Linked DNA regions of Homo sapiens: region 1 is linked to region 2. The links come from fine-mapping of genetic effects on gene expression. Tissue or cell type: tibial nerve. Region 2 holds a variant in brackets; the other region holds the start of a gene. All regions are shown on one strand. Distances are from middle to middle.

Region 1 (2,748 bases), 29 kb after region 2:
ACAACATCCCACTAATGGCTGCAGGTGACGACGCTGTCACCCGGAGACGCAGGCGCCCAGCGTCTGGGCTCTTGCCTGTTGGAGGTTTGGCAGATCTCGGATCCCTGGAGGGTGAGGGTCCCTCTGGGAGCTGCTGTATCCCCTGGGGGCCACCTCTCATGCTTCCGGGCCTGGCTTGTCCACTCCATCCCAGCCAAGCCAGAGCTGAGCTACAGGGTCAGACCCAGCCAAGGTGGCGTCTGGGCAGCCGGTGCTGTAGGGTGGGCGGTCCATGAGCAGAAGCGCCAGGGTATGCAGATGGCAGGCAGAGCCCCTCTGCACCTTGCGGGGTAGGGGGGTCTTGGGTGAAGGCCCGGAAAACCAGAGAGCAGGAAGCAGCTCTCAGTCTCGGGGGGCAGTCATCCAGCGCTCCCCCCACCCCCCGCTCCTGAACCTCAGCTCCGGGGACCTCATCCCCCAGCTCCTGAGCGGCGCCTGATTGGACTCTGCTGCTCTGCACCCCGCTGGCCTCCTGGGGCCCGGCAGGGAGTAAGCAGACCCCCCTCCGTCCTCCTTGCTGCCCCCACACTGTCCCGCCAGGGTTTCCACCAGGAGCTACCGCGCACCAACTTCTGCAGGGGCTGCCCACCCGCCGCCGTCCCGTGCGCATTCGGGGGTGCTGTCCCCTCCGGGTGAAAATCCTAACGCGGGGGCTGAGAACGGCGGTGGGAACCCCTCGGCCATGGAGGGCGCCTGGGGAGGCGGGAGCTCACAGCCCCTCCCGGGTCCTCCCCCCGGGCGCTCTCCGCGGACCCCTCGGCGGCGGAAGGGGCCCCCCAGTGGGGCCGGGGGCTCACCTCGTCCTCGGGGAGGGTGGGCAGCGGCTCGAAGTCGTAGAAGTCCAGGTCTTTGCCGTCCTCCTCGTAAAGATCCGCCGCGGCCGGGTCCATGGCCTGCATCCTGCGGCCGCGCCGCGCACCGCCCCCGGGGCCTCCGGCTGGGCTGGGCTGGGCTCGGCTACGCGCGCCCTGGCTCCATGGAGACGCGCCCGGCCCTCGCCCGCCCCCGCCCGCCCGCCGCTGCCGCAGTGTCTCCAGGGGACGCGGTCAGGGATACGGGGCGGGCCCGGGGGGCGCGGGGGGCGCGGGGTGCGCGGGGGCTGCGCGGCGCTGTCCGGACCCGGCGCCTAGGGAACGTCGCTCCTTCCTGGGGGAGGCACCGGGGGCGGAGCCAGGCGTGTGGCCTCCGCGGGGAGCCACGGGGTCTGCGCCCCACCTGGGCCCCAAGGGTCGAGGGGCGGAGCCGGCGCCCAGGAAAGCTCGGACGGGCAGACCCCCTCGCCGGCTCCCGCCGCCCCCGTCCCACCCCCGCTGCTGCCGGGCGGGGCTGCCGCAGTCCCGGGGTGGCCTCTGCAGCGGCGTTGGGCAGGGCCGGGCGGGGCCCGGGGTGGGGGGCGGGGCCCGGGGTGGGGGGCGGGGCGGTCGCTGGGCCGGGGTCTCTCCTGAGCGAGGGTCTTTCGGAGGCCCGGGGATGTTGGGGGTGGGGCAATAACGCTGCCTCATCCCCACCTGGAGGCATCGGAGAGACCCACTGGGCACCCGACCCTCCCCGGTCCTGGGGGACCCTGGGGGGTCCTGGGGCTCTTGACCTCTTCCTGCCCCAAAGGCCCCCCGGGGCTTTCTTCAGCGCCAGGGTGACCCCGGCCCACGGTAGTGCCGCGGTCAGAAGAGCCAGGATAGCCCCAAGCTCGGCCAAGAGGCAGGGAGGGTGGAGGAGAATCTCACCTTCCCCGGCCACCCCCAGAACTCCCACAGGAGAGAGGGCGGCTTCAGGGCCCGGCTGTCAGCTCCCCGTCCGTGTGGCTGGCCAGGCACACAGTAGGTACTTAATCCATGCTCCTGGCTTGAAGGAGCAGCAGGGCTTTTGACCGCAGAGTGGGAGGGTGCAGTGTGTTCAGGGACGTGAATTCCCAGCACTCTGTCCCCTGGTCGGTCACCCGGGCTGTCACTCTGGCCTGGCAGGGAGTTCAGGGGCTCAGCTCCCCGGGAGCCAGGTGGGCACTGAAGCCGGAGGCTGGGAGTGGGGCAGGTGCTGGGCAGACTCCCTGCGTCCAGCCAGGCAGCCCCACCTTATTGAAAATGCCCACCCTGGGGCCCACCCTGGTCCACCGAGTCAGCAGTCAGGTGCAGCCTCCCCCATCCTTGGGTGTTTGGAAGCTTGGGCAGCAAGCCAAGGTGGAGTGGGCTGGAGCTGGAGAGGAGGAGTCTCACAGAGGGTGGCCTCAGCCAGCTGTCCCTGAGCTCTCTCTCTGTGGGCCCCACAGGGCCTGCAGCGCCCCAGTCCCTGTCTTGGAAGGAGGCGGAAGTGGCAGGCAGACTCTGCTCCAGGAGCCTGATCCCGCTGCACCCTGGTGCTCAGACCTGGACATTGGAGCTGAGCCCCTGGGCTCCTGGGCCCTCTGCTGCAGGGCTGGGGCCGCCTCCTTTGTCAGGTCTGGATGTGCCCCTGACGCCTCTCAGCTGCCACCCAGACTTGTGCCTCCGGGGGAACGCCGGGCTGACGTGACCCCAAAGGGAAGGCACCAGGGACCCCACAAGCACAGGACTTTGTCACCGAGTGCCCAGGTCACCTCACGGGCTTGGGGTGAGGATATAGACACTGAATAGGGGGCAAAGGTAACCCCATAATTTGGGGGGCAGCCATAGGGCAAGCACTCCTGGAAAGACGTGCATGCGGTTGGTAAAATGCAGAACTCACAGGCTCCTGGAG
Region 2 (2,748 bases):
TTTCTATCATTCCTGAGTGGAAGTTTTACCTTGATTTTGAATGTAATTTATTGAATTGTATTTAAATTTGTGTAATTTAAATTTTAAGAATGCTCATGTTTCACAGGTGCCTTATACACATCCCTGGTTGTTTAGCCCTTAGTTCTCGTGAGCCAGGAGGCGCAGCTCTAGTGCACATGGCCAGTGCCGTCCACACCAAGCCCTGTCTTGGTGCCCCGGCCAGAGCCACGGCCCTGCTGGCAGATACCGCCTGTGGCCGCCTGGCCAGGAAGGGCTGCCCTGACTCCCTCGAGTCCTGATGGGGGGCTGCTGGACAGATGGGGGACGTGGCATCCCCGAGGGCTGGGGGCAGGGCTGGGGCAGGGTGGGGAGGGCCCGGGTACCTTTTCAGTTACCAGCCTCTCCTCTGCCAGCTCGGGAGCCAGAAAGAACGAGTCATAGGAACCTAAGAGAGAAACCCGACTGAGCTTTCCTCACCCCTGGCGAGCCGGTGCTGGACTCGGCCTGAGGGGAACCCACACACTCACCGTTGGCAGGGGGTGGCTGGAAGAGCACAGCCCCGTCCTCAGCAACCAGCACGGAGTCCAGACACAGGTAGGCTGTGGCAGAGCTTGGGTCAGGGCGGGTATGCATGCTGCCCCGCACTTGGGGCTGGCTGGGGGGAAGGAGCTGCGGAGCCTCAGTCAGGCCGGGCAGCCCCCCAGCCTCCCCATTGCACGGGCACGCACCTGCCAGTGCACGCACATGGCCTGACCCCAGCCCCCGGGGTCCTCGGAGCTGCCTCCTCCCAGCCCTCCCCGAGGGTAGCGCTGCCCCAGCCGACACAGTGGCTGCAGCGGCATATCTGCGGCTGAAAGGGAGCCAAGCGGCAGGGAGAACACGGTAACTTGAAGCCCCCGTGTCACAGGCCCCGTCCCGAGTCAGGGCCCACGGGGCAGCCACGGGCTCACGGTGGACGGACACTGGAGCCGGGTGTGTCTCCGATGGCCTCTCCCCCAGCCCTTTCAGATGCTGCCCTCATCACCCCCAGGACGTTTTTACGTCTCAGATGCACCGTCCGTCTGCCCTGATGTCTGGCAGGGCTAGGCTTTGACGGGGCAGACCCGTGCAATGCTGAAGATTCCCTCCCCACTCCAAAGCCAATTGCTGCCTCCCTGGGGACAATGTCACTGTGTTGAGAATGTGTGGGCGAGGGCCATGGCAAAGTCCCCGTTCCTCTTTACGGCACAGTCACCGGTTTCAAGGCC[C/T]ACCTTGCAGGCATCTGTCCCCACACCTCCCTCGGTGCTGCAACCCAGCAGGCACCCACAAGGTGCTCCAGACGGGAGCCGCCTGTTCCGTTCACCGGAGACACTGTCCTGGCTGCCCCTGGGTCCCTTGGTTCAGGTGGGGGCCAGTTACGCATGGGACGGCAGGGGTGATGGGACAGTGGGGGGGCGTGGGACGGTGTGGGGGGTGGGACGGCGGGGGTGTGGGACGGCGGTGGGGGGTGGAACAGCAGTGGGGGGTGGGGACGGCGGGGGGGATGGGATGGTGCGTGCGTCACCTGGGTGCTCAGGGCGTGTCTGCAGTGCGCGGAGGCAGGCCAGGCACAGGGCCCACAGCTCGTACTCCCGGAAGGGCCGGCCCAGCTGGGACAGGAGGTCCTGCAGGGACACCCACTGTGGGCAGGAGAGCGGCGAGGTCAGTGTGGACACCCCTTGCCAGGGCCCGCCGCCTGGAGAGGCATGTCCGGGGGACAGGCCAGGGTGAGGCCCACTCAGCCCCTGAGTAGGCGCCCCCCACACCTGATAGAAGGGCTAGGGAGGTCCCTAAGTCAACTCCAGCGTGTGGGGGCCGTGGGGAGACTGGGGCCCTTGGCCCTGTGGGTGGGAACGTCCCACGGTGCAGCCACTGCAGACGACAGTGCTGCCGTTCCTTGAAAAGCTCAACATACACCTCCCAGGTGACAGCAGTTCCACACGGCCACATTCCCCGAGGAACCGAGGGCAGGGCTCACGCATACGTGCACACCCATGTTCCCAGCAGCACGGCTCGAAATAGCCAACACGGGGAGCACCCAGGCATCCACGGACGGACGCAGGGGCAGTGTGGATGGCGCTTGGCCTCGGGACAGGGATGGGGGGTTCTCACGCAGGCTCCCTGGGGAGGAACCGTGAGGACAGTGGGCTCAGTGAAGAGACCAGACACACAGCTCTGTCCATCCCACTCCCACGAGGCCCCTGGACAGAGCTCATGGAGGGGAAGGGTGGGACGGGGTGCAGGGGCCAGGCTCATGGAGGTGGAGGGCGGGACGGGGTGCAGGGGGCGGGCTCGGGGGTTGGGGTTTCGTGTGGGCTGATGGGGACAGCTGTGCAACAGCGTGAACACACCCAATGCCGCTGAGCTGTGCTCTTGCAGAGGGTTGAAGTGGTGGCTTTTGTTCGGTGCATTTTCTCACATACACACACACCGTGACACCAGGCATGCGTTCAGCCTGGGAGGCCACTCTCCACTCCAAGGCCTCACGGACAGCTGGGACCAAAGTCCACCCTCCAACAGGTGGCTCGGCCACCCTGTGCCTCCGTGTGCCCTTCGGGAAGGTAGGCTGTTGTGCGTGGGAAGGCGTGCCGCCAGGGAGAGTGGTGGAGGGCGACGGGGCACTGCGCCCTTGTCCTTCAGATCAACGAGGCCTGGTGGCTTGAGGGCACCCCCGTCCCCGGGCCAGGCGCTGCCTGGCAGATGGACTTGCATGCAGGCCACTGACTTCAG

What was found. PIP is the estimated chance that this variant, and not a neighbour inherited with it, causes the effect.
Region 1: it holds the start of KNDC1, and the variant in region 2 is fine-mapped to the expression of KNDC1 in tibial nerve (GTEx, PIP 0.93).

The regions. Positions count from the first base shown.
Region 1 is chr10:133,158,658-133,161,405 of GRCh38, reverse strand. It overlaps KNDC1 (kinase non-catalytic C-lobe domain containing 1), which reads right to left and starts at 1,187. Exons shown (of 30, transcript NM_152643.8): 1 at 837-1,187. The coding sequence starts at 938. RefSeq lists enhancers at 1-226, 227-816.
Region 2 is chr10:133,187,449-133,190,196 of GRCh38, reverse strand. It overlaps KNDC1 (kinase non-catalytic C-lobe domain containing 1), which reads right to left. Exons shown (of 30, transcript NM_152643.8): 7 at 1,544-1,658; 8 at 528-599; 9 at 384-445. Among named protein-coding and RNA genes, the nearest start is that of KNDC1, 29 kb to the right of the region's middle. The variant C/T (reference allele first, on the strand shown) is at 1,248.